Linked DNA regions of Homo sapiens. The protein of the gene in region 2 interacts with the protein of the main gene of each other region in a pairwise test. Each region holds a gene or a part of one and is shown on either strand. Other genes may lie near its edges.

What was found. The genes of interacting proteins can lie anywhere in the genome.
Region 1: the proteins of SF1 (region 2) and UHMK1 interact in binary tests that used the Homo sapiens proteins (3 or more experiments, as listed by UniProt).

Annotation. Positions count from the first base shown.
Region 1 is NC_000001.11:162,520,721-162,528,817, reverse strand, and holds part of UHMK1 (serine/threonine-protein kinase Kist), read right to left. Parts: intron 6,415-8,097; coding exon 6,268-6,414; 3' UTR 1-6,267. UniProt on the Homo sapiens protein: Upon serum stimulation, phosphorylates CDKN1B/p27Kip1, thus controlling CDKN1B subcellular location and cell cycle progression in G1 phase. May be involved in trafficking and/or processing of RNA.
Region 2 is NC_000011.10:64,764,106-64,769,082, reverse strand, and holds the end of SF1 (splicing factor 1), read left to right. Parts: coding exon 1-61; intron 62-796; coding exon 797-977; intron 978-1,238; coding exon 1,239-1,512; coding exon of another isoform or gene 1,513-1,516; intron 1,517-1,831; coding exon 1,832-1,891; intron 1,892-2,003; coding exon 2,004-2,183; intron 2,184-2,927; coding exon 2,928-3,265; 3' UTR 3,266-3,564; coding exon of another isoform or gene 3,565-3,694; 3' UTR 3,695-4,477; downstream 4,478-4,977. UniProt on the Homo sapiens protein: Necessary for the ATP-dependent first step of spliceosome assembly. Binds to the intron branch point sequence (BPS) 5'-UACUAAC-3' of the pre-mRNA. May act as transcription repressor.

The DNA.
Region 1 (8,097 bases), on a different chromosome or scaffold from region 2:
TGTTAAGAAGTTATAAAGGAATGTTAAATTATTTAAGATATTTCAAAAAAGAATTAAGAATGGAAGAGTAAATTCTGCTGGAAAAGATAGGGCAGCTTTACAGTCTGCAAAGTAAATAATCTACAGAGATGCAGCTTAACTTTTTTTTATTATAATAAACATACTTATTTCCATAAGGTGCTGTGACTTTGCAGCTAGTGCATACTAATGCCACCCACTGTACCCAATGTGCAAAAGGAAATAATGGAGATGGCTAACCTCCAGTTTTCTGATCCTTGATTTGCATAAGTGGTGATGTACACCAAATACACAAAAGCTGGAGTATAAATATTTATTTTTAAAAATTAGGCCAAACTGAATATAGATATTTAATCTGGTTTCACAAACTCTTAAAATAATTTTCTGAGGAAACAATGATGAGGAATGTGTAGGAAAGGCAATGTTTCTATGCTAGCGGTACCAAACCTGGAACTTTAAGTATCATTTTTTAGCTCATTAACTATATAGAAGATTACTAAGACCAGTAAGGGAGCCATTTTCTTCCCCTCCTCTATTTTTATTACTTATCTCTCTCCTCTTTACTCTTAAAATTGGCAATCTTCTGACAACCCAAGCTAATAAAATAATATAGCTATATATAATTCAAATAACTAAAGAACTTTTGAGTCCATATATGCAGGATTTTTGAATACCTCACTACATTTGCTCTTATACCCTCACTGTCCTGGTATCATAAATATTATTAAGGGAAGATAACTTAGAAGGGGAAAGCAATTCCAACCTGGGATAAAAAAGTGATTACAAATAATTATCTTGTTGATAGTAAGGGCTTATGGTAACAAGTAGCTCTGATTTTTCACATAAAGATCCCCCCCCAAAAAAACAAAATACAAACAATTCCAGTTTTTTTCCCCCAGAATGTGACTTATTTCCATTATACAAAGCAGTATAACAAAATAAGCTCTCTTCTGCACAAAAAACGATTAATGGTTTATAAGACAAATAAGTAGAATGCTTCTCTTTGCCTTTAAATTAAAATACTATGAACCTAGGTAACAAAACATACATGGCTTTCTTCAAAAGGGCCACAAGATTTCTTCTGGTTATTGTGACAGCTACCCAATTTAATGGGAAATAACACTCAAGCAGTCATTTGGTAAGTTTCCCATGAATTTCAGCATTTACAGTGCCACAAACACAACTGCCACAATTATGACAACTCTCTGAAAAGCACAAATAAAGCAAATTTAAAACATTAATCCTCATAAGCAGTACAAGGCAGAACAAAAGTGCTGAGTGGTAGGAAAATGAATAAAAATTTCCTATCAGGAGAATAAAGTTTGTGTAAACTATCTTATATCCTGAAGATCACTTTAATGACCACCTATAAAATACAAAGTTTCCTAAATACTCTCTGATTTATAGATATTTCTCTTACAGTCCACTGCTCCTATAAAATTACAGCAAAAAATATTAAAATTATTTACCTTCTTCTTAAATATCCATGGCACTTGTCAAGTACATGCTACTGTGAATCTACTGGTCATTATATAATTTAAAAATAGTGAAAAACATCTGAGGGAGGTGGCTACAATAACGAACATGACATATCCTATAGTATTAGGCAGAGAAGCTATCCTAAAACAAAATGAAACAAAATCTTTACAATTCTGGGTACTCCAAAAACTAAAATATCCATGTTCTTCTGTGATTAAGAATGGGACTTATCTTAATATACCACAAGAGGCTCAGCTCTGTATGATGGAGACAACATTTTTATATTCATCAAGAAAGCTAGTAAGTAATACTAACTTGAAAAACTACCATCTCAAAATAAAGGTGATTGACTGAGCACCTTAAGAAATGGGGATTCTTTTGAGCTAATTGTGACCAAGTACTTGTCTATATGTGACCATAATTGACAAGAAATGAAATTATATCACAGAGCTACAGTAGTAAAATTTGATGAAGGAACCTGATATTAAAAACAGAACTAGAGATCCAAGGAAGAATTAAATTCTGCCAGACAATTCTGGCTTTTCCATCATATATAATATTGGAATAAAATCAAATATGAATAGTTTTACATATACAAAAAAATAAGGTAAACCAAGGCTATTTCCAGGCAGACAGTGAATATATATATGAAAAATAAAACAAAGGTAAACCCAGAAAATTTTGGACTTTTATACTATCATATGTGACTCAATCTAAAAGTTACTCCAGGAAAAAGGCAGAAGTGCTATTAATTATCATCATCTGGGAAGCTTTCACCCAAATGAGTTTTAATATTTTCCAGCAAACACAAGGCACTTGCTTAAATCTTTATCTACACAGCCATCAGACTCAAAGTCATGATGTGATTCCAATGTACCCGAATCTGAATAAAGCCACCTAGCATGTACCCCTGCATAAGTGTCTAGGTAAATAGATGGTTACTGAGTGTCTCCCCTACTCCTTCACCCAGTAACTATGTTGTTACAATTACTATCATTTACAATGGTGCTGATTTTCATTAAATTAACTGTAAAAAAAAAAAAAAGTCATGCTGCCAAGTATACTGATAGTAGAACTTATGTGTAAGATAGGCCTAACAGTCAGAAAATAAGACCTAAAACAAAAAGATACCCAAATGTTAGTTATCTGCATGATAAATTAACTAAAACAAGCCATGAAACAGCATCTGATAAGTGCTCTAACTCCGCCTTTTATTCCAGAAAAGTAACTGATGCCCTTACCAGAGTGAAGGTCCAGTGTAATAAGACAGAAAAAAGCCTTCTGCCCATGGTTTCTCTTCAGCTTTCTCTATATGGCAGCATTCCTTATAATAAACTTGCTCAATAGTTAAAATATAAGCAACATGAATCTAGAAGACAAGTTAAATAAGTATTTGGAGATTTTCTTTTAAAAAATAATTTAACATATCTCAGCACTCTTTAGCAGCTGGAGTACCAAAAAGAAGGCAATATTTCTCTCAATAAAAACAAAGAGAAGTTCGAGTAAAACCATACTTATGGTTTTTGTTCTAAAAGCAGCCAGTTTGGCTCAAGGCATAGCAGAAAGGGAATCCCTCTAAAGAGAGCTGCTATATTGGTGGCCACAAAAAAGGAAGACATCCAGTGGTAATAAATGCGGATCTCTTATTGCAAGAGAATAGTTTTAAAAATTCCTTTAAAAGGCAGTCAGTACTTTTAGTTAATGCTGTCTCTTACTGAGGTGTCCAACTCTACTTGTTTTTGTCCTGTAAATACAGCATTAGTTTTGACAGTGGCTAGCTAGCTACCCCCTCCAAATATATTTCAAAAGAATCAAGTATTTCCCACAAAATAATCACTGTATGTGCCTTTTCTGGGTGTACAATGTGCCACAGTAATACCCCAAAGAAGTAACTGGGAAGGTGAGAGGCAAGGAAGCACAGGTATTAATTTAGGGAATGAAACACTACCTGAGACAAAATTTGCCCAAAAGGGTAGGGGTTAAGTGACATGAACCCTCACCTCTTTACCCTTTCTCTCAAAAAGAAAATTTCTAGGTCTTTCAATAACTTCAATAAACCAAAATCCCTATGTATATATTTCATCCTAATCATGAAACTTGTATCTTTTGATATTTGGTTCAGGTTTAAGAAAGATAATATCACAGGAGGGAGGGGTAATCTGCTAATGTGATCTTTGGTAGAACGGGCTAAGAGCTATAAAATAATTTCAATCACAGGAGGCATTTCTTTTTCAATTCTCTGGCTTTAATATAAAACATCTAGCCAGGTGTGGTGGCAAGCGCCTGTAAACCCAGCTACTGGGGAGGCTGAGACAGGAGAATCGCTCAAACCTGCGAGGCAGAGGTTGCAGTGAGCCGAGATTGAGCCACTGCACTCCAGCCTGGGCAACAGAGCAAGACATCATCTCAAAACAACAACAACAACAACAAAAAATCTAATTAAATGCATGGTTAATTCAAGGCTCATCAATTATTCCCTCAGCTCCCTTAAAATCTAGTAACCATCTTCTGTAACAAAATTCTACAGTGTCAAGCACTAAATATATGTATGAATGTATCAGCAATAAGATGACAATCAAAGAATGCTGTGAAGATTGGCATCAAGATGTTAGCAGCATACTGCAGGACTAGGCTTAGAAGCCTACCTGCAGTTTATTTGTAAGGATTTTTCTTTTGGGGGCGGAGGGGAGAGAAAAGTAAATGTGCTAACTTAGGATACTTGCCCTTATAAAGAATTCCTTTGTATCCCATGTTCATCGTATTTAAGGACCTGATGTTTCTAATCACCACAAAATCTGCTACCCATATGAACATTTAGGAAAGTTTAGGTCTTCACAATACGGGTTCTGCCCACTTGAATTCTGACTTGAAAACAAACCAATTTATAATCAACTCCTGAAAGGGCCAAAATAAAAAATAATAGTTCTTCCTTCTAAGGGCATGTATTGGGGAACATGCCACAAGACCCTTTGGTAATTCATAAATCAGCCTCCTTATGCCAAATTTGGTTTCATAATAAACATTAAAGGAGAGTCCTGAATTTGACAATTATAAATAACTAAAATGTCAAACAATAATTGTTTGAATGGGGTAAAGTATTTCATTCTGTAAAATGCAAATTCTAACTGGACTCTCAGCAACCTGCATGGCAAACATAAGGAAATATGAGGAGGCTTCCAGCAGGGAAAGATAGAAGACTTTTTCCTTAGGAAAAAATAAATAAATAAAAAAATTAATAACCTGTATATAACTTGTCTTTTTTTTTTGGTATAATCAGTGCTTCATAAAGGCATCCTAATTTTTATATCTTTAAAGACAACCTACCATGAAATAAGAAGAATCCATAATTATAATTCTAAAAACCATGTAATCAACTTGTGTCCATGAACTCACGCATAGCAGCATCCTCTACTCAGGGACACATTATGTTGCTATGAATCCTTTTAAGAATTCTTTGAGTTTTTCTTCCTTTCTACTTCTACCTCATTATATCTACACCTTTCTTAACTACCTTGCAGTCAAAAGCCAAACTACCTGGGATGCTGCTCCTCTAGTTTGTCTTCAGCTAAGGATAGAGGCAAAGAATGAGGGAAGGGGAGGAAAAAGGGAGCAGGGATACGAGAAACAGAAAGGAAGAAAAAAGAATCCTTTTATTTTCCACCCTCTCTTCGCCCATTTTTTTTCTTTTCCCTTCACTGTACATCTAATTCTTTTGACCCACTTCAATTTTCATCATAGTAGGTAGAGCCACATCTTGAGAAACCTTAAAACTATAGATTTACTACAAAAAAGATGAGCTAATACAAAGTCTAAAGTAAACTAAAAGAGGGGTTGATTTACATCTGGCACAACTTAGTCTTTGTTCCAATCATTTTAGAAGTCTCAATTTAACTCCAGGCTAGACTCCAGTTTGTTCTGGGCCTCTCAGGAATTATGTTTTGTCATTTACATTGTATCAGACAGACTACCTCTCAAAAAATGTATATCTTAAATCTTACGGATGTGAAACAGGTAGGGAAGAAATAAGTATAGACTGTATTAGCTCACAGGATTCACACTATAAAGTACACTGACTCAAATTTTCTCTAATCATTCATACTCGCACATTCACTCAAGCATACATACTAGACATAAAAATTGTGCAAGATCAAGCATCAGCTTTCTATTTTAAAAGCCTTAATTTAAAAAAACTTAGATAGGCTCACTGCAGTTCCTTTAAAGGAATATTCAGTACTACAGTACTGCTTTAAGAAAAAATTCACAACTCAGTGTTAAGAACACAGTAGGTAACTGCTGCTTGACAATTACTTAACATTACTGAGAGCATCCAGTGCCAGCTTATGGATATCAACAATAAGGAAGAACCACTGGACAACATAAAGAAATAATCTGTAAATGATGTCACCAAACCTAACAAATTTGTTAGTATTTACCAAGACATGATATTATTCATCCTTGCTTCATGATCCATGAAATAATTAAGATTTTTTTAGGCTACATACTGAAGAGCAACACCTGCTCTCCCGCACAAAAAAGGGTTGCCCACATGGATGCTCTAAAACCCCTCAATGTATAGCTGAGAGGTCTTGTCCTACTCAGTGCCAAATGTATGCAACGCAGTCACTGCTTGGGCAATGGCTGCACATTAGTAGGATTAAATAAATGTATAAAGTACCTTCTTAAAATGGTAAGGGGGTAGTCCTGCATTCATATGTGGAATAACCCAAGAAATGGAAGAGGAGAAAAAGGAAACAGTCCTTAGGTTACTGATTAAAGCAAGGTTTGATACAGATATCCCCTCTTGTAGGCACTCAGCGGGTAGAATGTAGCCACAACAAACTTCCCATCAAACATCCTTCCAGTCAGTAATTTCTGCGCAGCTTTGGAATCACCAGCATTTGCATACTCAACAAAGACCTGAAAGAAGACAGAGAAAAAAACATTTCATTTCCACCAAGATTGTTTTAGACCAGTGCTTTACCACCTTTAATATATATACATCAACTGGAGATGTTATTAAAATGCAGATTTTGCTTCCTTAGGTCTGAGATGTCGCCTGAGTTTCTGTTCTAAACAAACTTCCAGGTGATGCCAATGCTGCTGGTCTATGAACTATACTTCAGGACAGCAAGGTTTAGAATACTTCCTCACAACTCAGCTCAACTTTGAAAAATCTCTCAAGGACAAGTTGTGTGAATCATGTACAATCTTTTGCTAAGGTCGTTACAGGAGTGATGAATAACACTAGACATCTGCCAAAGATACGGCTGAATAGCTCAGACAGCAACTGCATTTCAATGGTACCTGGATGATAATCTGTACTTTTAGCAGTGAAAAAGGAAAAAATATTGGTCAAAAGCTGCTGGAAATTGCACCTATTAGGAAGTACAATTTGGCTGGGTGCAGGGGCTCACTCCTGTAATCTGAGCACTTTGGGAGGCCAAGGCAGGTGGATCACGAGGTCGGGAATTCGAGATCAGCCTGACGAACACGGTGAAACCGTGTCTCTACTAAAAATACAAAAATTAGCTGGGCAAGGTGGCACACACCTGTAATCCCAGCTACCCAGGAGGCTGAGGCAGGAGAATCACTTGAACCCGGGAGGCGAAGGTTGCAGGGAGCTGAGATTGCGCCACTGTACTCCAGCCCGGGCAACAACAGAGCAAGACTCCATCTCAAAAACAAACAAACAAAATCTAACTGGGCGTGATAGCACATGCCTGTAATCCCAGCTACTTGGGAGGCAGAGTTGGGAGGATCACTTGAGCTCAGGAAGTCGAGGCTGCAATGAGCCAAGATCACGACACTGTATGTGCTCCAGCCTGGGTGACAGAGCAAGACCCTGTCCCCTCCCTGACCCCACCCCAAAAAGGAATAATGAATCTATTCCTGATTTTTTTTTTACCTGATTCTTAATTATGCCCAAACCTATAGAGCAAAGTTCGATAAATGAGTAGACATGCATTTATAGAAGGAATATCATGTTTTCTATCATACTCCTTGCTTCAGATAGGCTATACTTTTCTATACTACACCATCCCACACTAAGAAAGGCATCTTATTTTTATAAATTATGAAATTAATAGGGCTGTATCATTTTAATTCTGATTATTTTTATAATTGCATTATCAGATGCATTCATTATTTTTCAGTGTTTTTTGTAACATTCCTTATAAAATCATGTTTGCTTGAATTAAAAATTCAAATGAAGAATGGCTTCGACAACTAGGTAATGGACATTTTCAAAAGCCTAGATAGATTAAATCTGTGATTCCAAGAGTTTATCAAAAGCTGCTTTCACTCTCCTTTAAATGTCAGTGAAAACTTCTCAAAATAGCAACTTTCCTCTCACTGATACTTTTTTCATATCATCTTAAACCTGGATACTTCTCTCTGGAAAAGACTTCTCCTGTCTCTCTATTCTGTATCTTCCACTTCATTTTGACCACTGGGGCTAATATTGAGTCAGATCATGTCAGTCCTTCATTCGAAATCTTCCAATACCTCGCCCTAGTTCAGAATAAAAGCCAATGTAATCTCAATACTCTACCCAGCTCACTCTACTTAATAAGCCCCCTACCACTCCCTAATCTCTCTGAT
Region 2 (4,977 bases):
CCACAGTGTGTACCAAGTGTGGAGGGGCTGGCCACATTGCTTCAGACTGTAAATTCCAAAGGTGAGGGGCTGGCTCTTGCGGTTTCCTGGTAGCCTGCGATGTGCAGGACAACTTTTCTGGCACATTCATTGGTTGCTGTTAATCTTACCAAGAGAAACATCCTTTCTGTTAGTGTGGTCTGTAATGGTGTGATTTAAAGCCCAGGATGATTAGAAATAGGCTGTACAGATACCCCTGTTTGTTTGTCTTGAGCCCAAGAAAACTGGAAGTTTCCATTTTGGGTATGTTTTTACTGGGGCTCAATAGGAAATTCACTGCTTTTGCTGTTCAGAATTGGTTCAAGAAGACTAAGCAATCTCTACAGATTTCTGACCAGTTGCAAGTCAGCACTCGATATCAACACTTTCTGACTGGCTGGCGAATATGTAAGGTTTTGTTTAGGAAGTTCGTTCTGGCAGTTGTGCCAGTCTTGCATAGATTTTCCTTTCCTCAAACTGGGAATGAAGTTTGATGAAATTGACTTGAGAGAACCTGTGCTTCATCGGTGCTCAGGGTCTCCTGTGCTCTTCGCCCAGGGGCCCCTCTACTCTGGTGATCCCAGATGCAGAACTGGGCACGAAACTGAAGATCTGATGAGACTGTTGAGAGCCATGCCCAGTAAGGGGTTAGAAAGATGTGTGATGATCTGGTGATTGAATTCTTCAGAACTTTCCATATGTTGGTTCCTCAGGATAAAAGCTTCCTTCTTAACAAGTTTTTCCCCTTTCTCTGTTTGTGTCCCCCACCCCACTTCAGGCCTGGTGATCCTCAGTCAGCTCAGGATAAAGCACGGATGGATAAAGAATATTTGTCCCTCATGGCTGAACTGGGTGAAGCACCTGTCCCAGCATCTGTGGGCTCCACCTCTGGGCCTGCCACCACACCCCTGGCCAGCGCACCTCGTCCTGCTGCTCCCGCCAACAACCCACCTCCACCGGTGAGCCTGGGGGCTGGCTCTCTTGGTCTGGCTTCCCCATTCTCTACTGCAGAGACTGGGAGCTATGGCCACGTGGTTTGGGTAGAGCAGACAATGGATGTGGATGGCAACATTGTTCTTCCGGGATCTCAGGCCAGTTTGGGGACTTCTCACTTCGGGAAGACCTTGTTCTTGTGTTCTGGTCCTGTGTCATAACCCGAAGAACAATGTTGCCACTAGGAGGCGCAGGCAGGGACGTTGGCAGGAAATGCTCTCACGTAGTCTCTCATGTCTACCACCCAGAGCCGCCCACCCTGGATGAATTCTGGCCCTTCAGAGAGTCGGCCCTACCACGGCATGCATGGAGGTGGTCCTGGTGGGCCCGGAGGTGGCCCCCACAGCTTCCCACACCCATTACCCAGCCTGACAGGTGGGCATGGTGGACATCCCATGCAGCACAACCCCAATGGACCCCCACCCCCTTGGATGCAGCCACCACCACCACCGATGAACCAGGGCCCCCACCCTCCTGGGCACCATGGCCCTCCTCCAATGGGTAAGTAAGTGTCAGACCAGAAACCTTGGGGGCTTTGGGATAAGCAAGGGGTTACGTCAGGTCGCTGTTGGCTAGAAGCAGCTCTCAAGTGGCTGGGCAATGTGCTGGGTCTGCCTGGCTTGCCAGGGTTGTGGCTCTGGAAGGAGCAAGACTCCATTCTGGTTCAGGGAGTGATTCTGTGTTGGGTAAGCACAGACCTGCCTTTTACAGGCATGGTTTTCAGAACTCGCGTAAGGATAGCAACTGAGGTTATCACAGGGGTGGCTTCCCTGGCCAGTTCCAATGTCCTGCTAAGTCCCTGCTCTTTCCTTCCATCAAGATCAGTACCTGGGAAGTACGCCTGTGGGCTCTGGGGTCTATCGCCTGCATCAAGGAAAAGGTAATGGCTGTCTGCTGGCTGTGGGTCTTCACCTAGGCTTGGGTGAGTGGGGGTTCTGGCCCAAGTCCCCGCCTTTCCCTGAGGCCTCATCTTTGCCTCCACCTGTCCACAGGTATGATGCCGCCACCACCTATGGGCATGATGCCGCCGCCGCCGCCGCCTCCCAGTGGGCAGCCCCCACCCCCTCCCTCTGGTCCTCTTCCCCCATGGCAACAACAGCAGCAGCAGCCTCCGCCACCCCCTCCGCCCAGCAGCAGTATGGCTTCCAGTACCCCCTTGCCATGGCAGCAAAGTGAGTAGAATATTTTGGGCTTGTGGGGGTGGGTGGGATGGGGGTGGGGCTGACAGGAACCATAGAGCCTCACACAAGCAGGCAGGTGTCTTGGGATGAGCCCCTGGGCTCTGCTGGGGTTGTAAACAGAAAGGGCCTCCTGGTCCAGGGGGTGGAGGGGCATCTTGAAGAGGAGAGCTGATGTTTGGTGTGGTTGTGTCTGGGGAGAGGTTCGTGGGGGCCTGGAGGGGAGCCTGCTATTGTAGGTAGGGGGCCAGAAGTCCAGACCCTCGCAGGCTGAGTGAGCGGCTGGCTGGACTGAGCCTGGTGCATATGGGTCGAGTGGGATGGTGCATGCTTGCTCTGGCAAGGGCTGCGATTGGGGTGAGAGACTGCAGAGGTGGGACTGGGCAGTGGGGAGACAGCAGCTGTGGCCTTGAGGTTGAATGTGCCGTTCGGTGGTGGCGGCGGCTGGGCGGAGGGACATCAGAGCTGTTCTTGTGTCTGGTACCTTCCCCTCAGCCCTTCCAGGGGCATTGGTGACAAAGGGCTTACTCTGTTAAGCCCAGAGACCTCGAGGCTGACCCCAGGGTAGTCCTGCCCACCCCTCCACTCCCCATCACCAGCCCCGCCCACCCGCCCCCCACCACCGTACCGCATGCCAAGCAAGGAGCAGGCGCCCCTCGCCCCCATCCCAAGGCAGCAGCCGCAGACAGCCGCGGTGTGCCCCCGCGCGTGTGACCTTGGGCTTCTTTACCACCCCAGATACGACGACTACCACCACGAGCGCTGGCACAGGGTCCATCCCGCCATGGCAACAGCAGCAGGCGGCTGCCGCAGCTTCTCCAGGAGCCCCTCAGATGCAAGGCAACCCCACTATGGTGCCCCTGCCCCCCGGGGTCCAGCCGCCTCTGCCGCCTGGGGCCCCTCCCCCTCCGCCGCCTCCACCGCCTGGTTCCGCCGGCATGATGTATGCCCCGCCCCCTCCTCCTCCGCCTCCCATGGACCCTTCTAACTTTGTCACCATGATGGGCATGGGGGTGGCGGGCATGCCGCCCTTCGGGATGCCTCCAGCTCCCCCACCGCCTCCACCACAGAACTAGACTTGTTTTTTAAGAAAATATATATTATATATAGAGAGAATTGGTCTCGTTTAAACACGCCGAACCTCACCATATGGAGCCAGACATTGGGACGCACGCATGTGATTGTGTGTGCACGCATGTGTGTGTGTGCACGCACTGGGCTGGGCCAAGCGACTGAGGATTCGCTTGGGAACGGGCAGGTGGTAGTAGGGGCGCCAGCTTGGGCTCTCCTGGCGCCCCGTAGCATCGAGTGTCTTCTTTGTCTTCTTTCTCTCCTCACCCAACTCCCTTTGCCTCTCCCCAAACCGGGCCGCCAGGATCCCTCCCCGCGGCGGCGATGGCCCGAGCCATGAGAGTGAGGACTTTCCGCGCCCATTGGTGACCCTTCCAGGCAGACAGCCTCAGCAACGCCCCTGGTGGACAGGATGGTTCGGCAAAGCAGCCTGAGTTATTTTTGTGGACGGAATCGGAACACGCTGGCTCCATATCGTGAAATTTTTATTAATTTTTTTCTTTTTCCTTTGTTACTTCTTTATCTTTTCCTTTCTTCAGACTCCGTCCAAGGAGATGCTCTCCCCGGTCTTCTGCTGCAATTTAGATTCCTTTCCCTTCTCTCCAGTTCTCCTTCCCTTACCAAGGAGAGGGGAGCAAATGGTTTTGGGCAAGGGCTTTGGCCATTCATGTCAAGCTGGTTGTGGGTTTTTCAAGGTGCCATAGCCACCCCCAAAGATGTTTGTTTAAAGCGTGGGGTTTTTTAATCTCTGCCACCCTTGTCAAGGGAGTCTTGTAAAGTTGCCGAGGGTAGGTTCATCTCCAGGTTTCGGGATTCCCATCCGTCCTGGCGATCCTGCCAGCAGTGGGTGGGCAGCCTGAGCTCCCTCGGGCTCGCCTGCCAGCCTGGAGTTCTTCCTGTGCTCCTTGATCACCTGAGCTGCCTCAGATTCCATTTGGTCCTCTCCTTCCTGGAAGGCTTCCTTTTATGTTTTGTTTTAATCCCAAATGTCTGAATGTTTTGCAGTGTGTAGGGGTTTGAGCCCCTTGTTCATTCTCCTTCCTTTTTCCTCCCGCTTCCCTCTCCATGAAGTGATTCTGTTGACAATAATGTATACTGCGCGTTCTCTTCACTGGTTTATCTGCAGAAATTTCTCTGGGCTTTTTTCGGTGTTAGATTCAACACTGCGCTAAAGCGGGGATGTTCCATTGAATAAAAGAGCAGTGTGGTTTTCTGGGTCTGCTTCTTTATTTTCTTTTTAATGCCTGCCCCGCCCGGTTTTTCTTTTCACATAAACTTCCTCTACCACCAGCAGCAGCAGCAGCACCAAAGGTGCCTTAACTTTCGTTCAGCACCAGGTCCGGGGGGGTGAGACTGTGGGTGGTTAATTAGGGAAGCCCACCACCTGCCTCCTGTGTGTGGCTTTGGTGGTGGGAGCTCAGTGTGTGGGTGGCTCCACAGTCTCCCCTTTGGTGACTAGTTAACATCGCTGAGAACCAATTTTGCCCCTCCTTGTTCACTGCTCATTTTTCTAGTCTCTGTCCTTTGAAGGCTTTTTCCTGGGGCTCAGACGTCCACGTTTGATGAGCTCCAGTGGTGATTTGTGCCTGGAAGCTGCCACCTAAGGCCCTGGGCCTGGGGAGGCATCAACACTAAAGGTCAAGCCAACTAATCCTGCCTGTCAGGCACAGAGCAGCTAAAATTAAAACCGCCAAGTGGCTTTTTTCCTTCTCTGCTG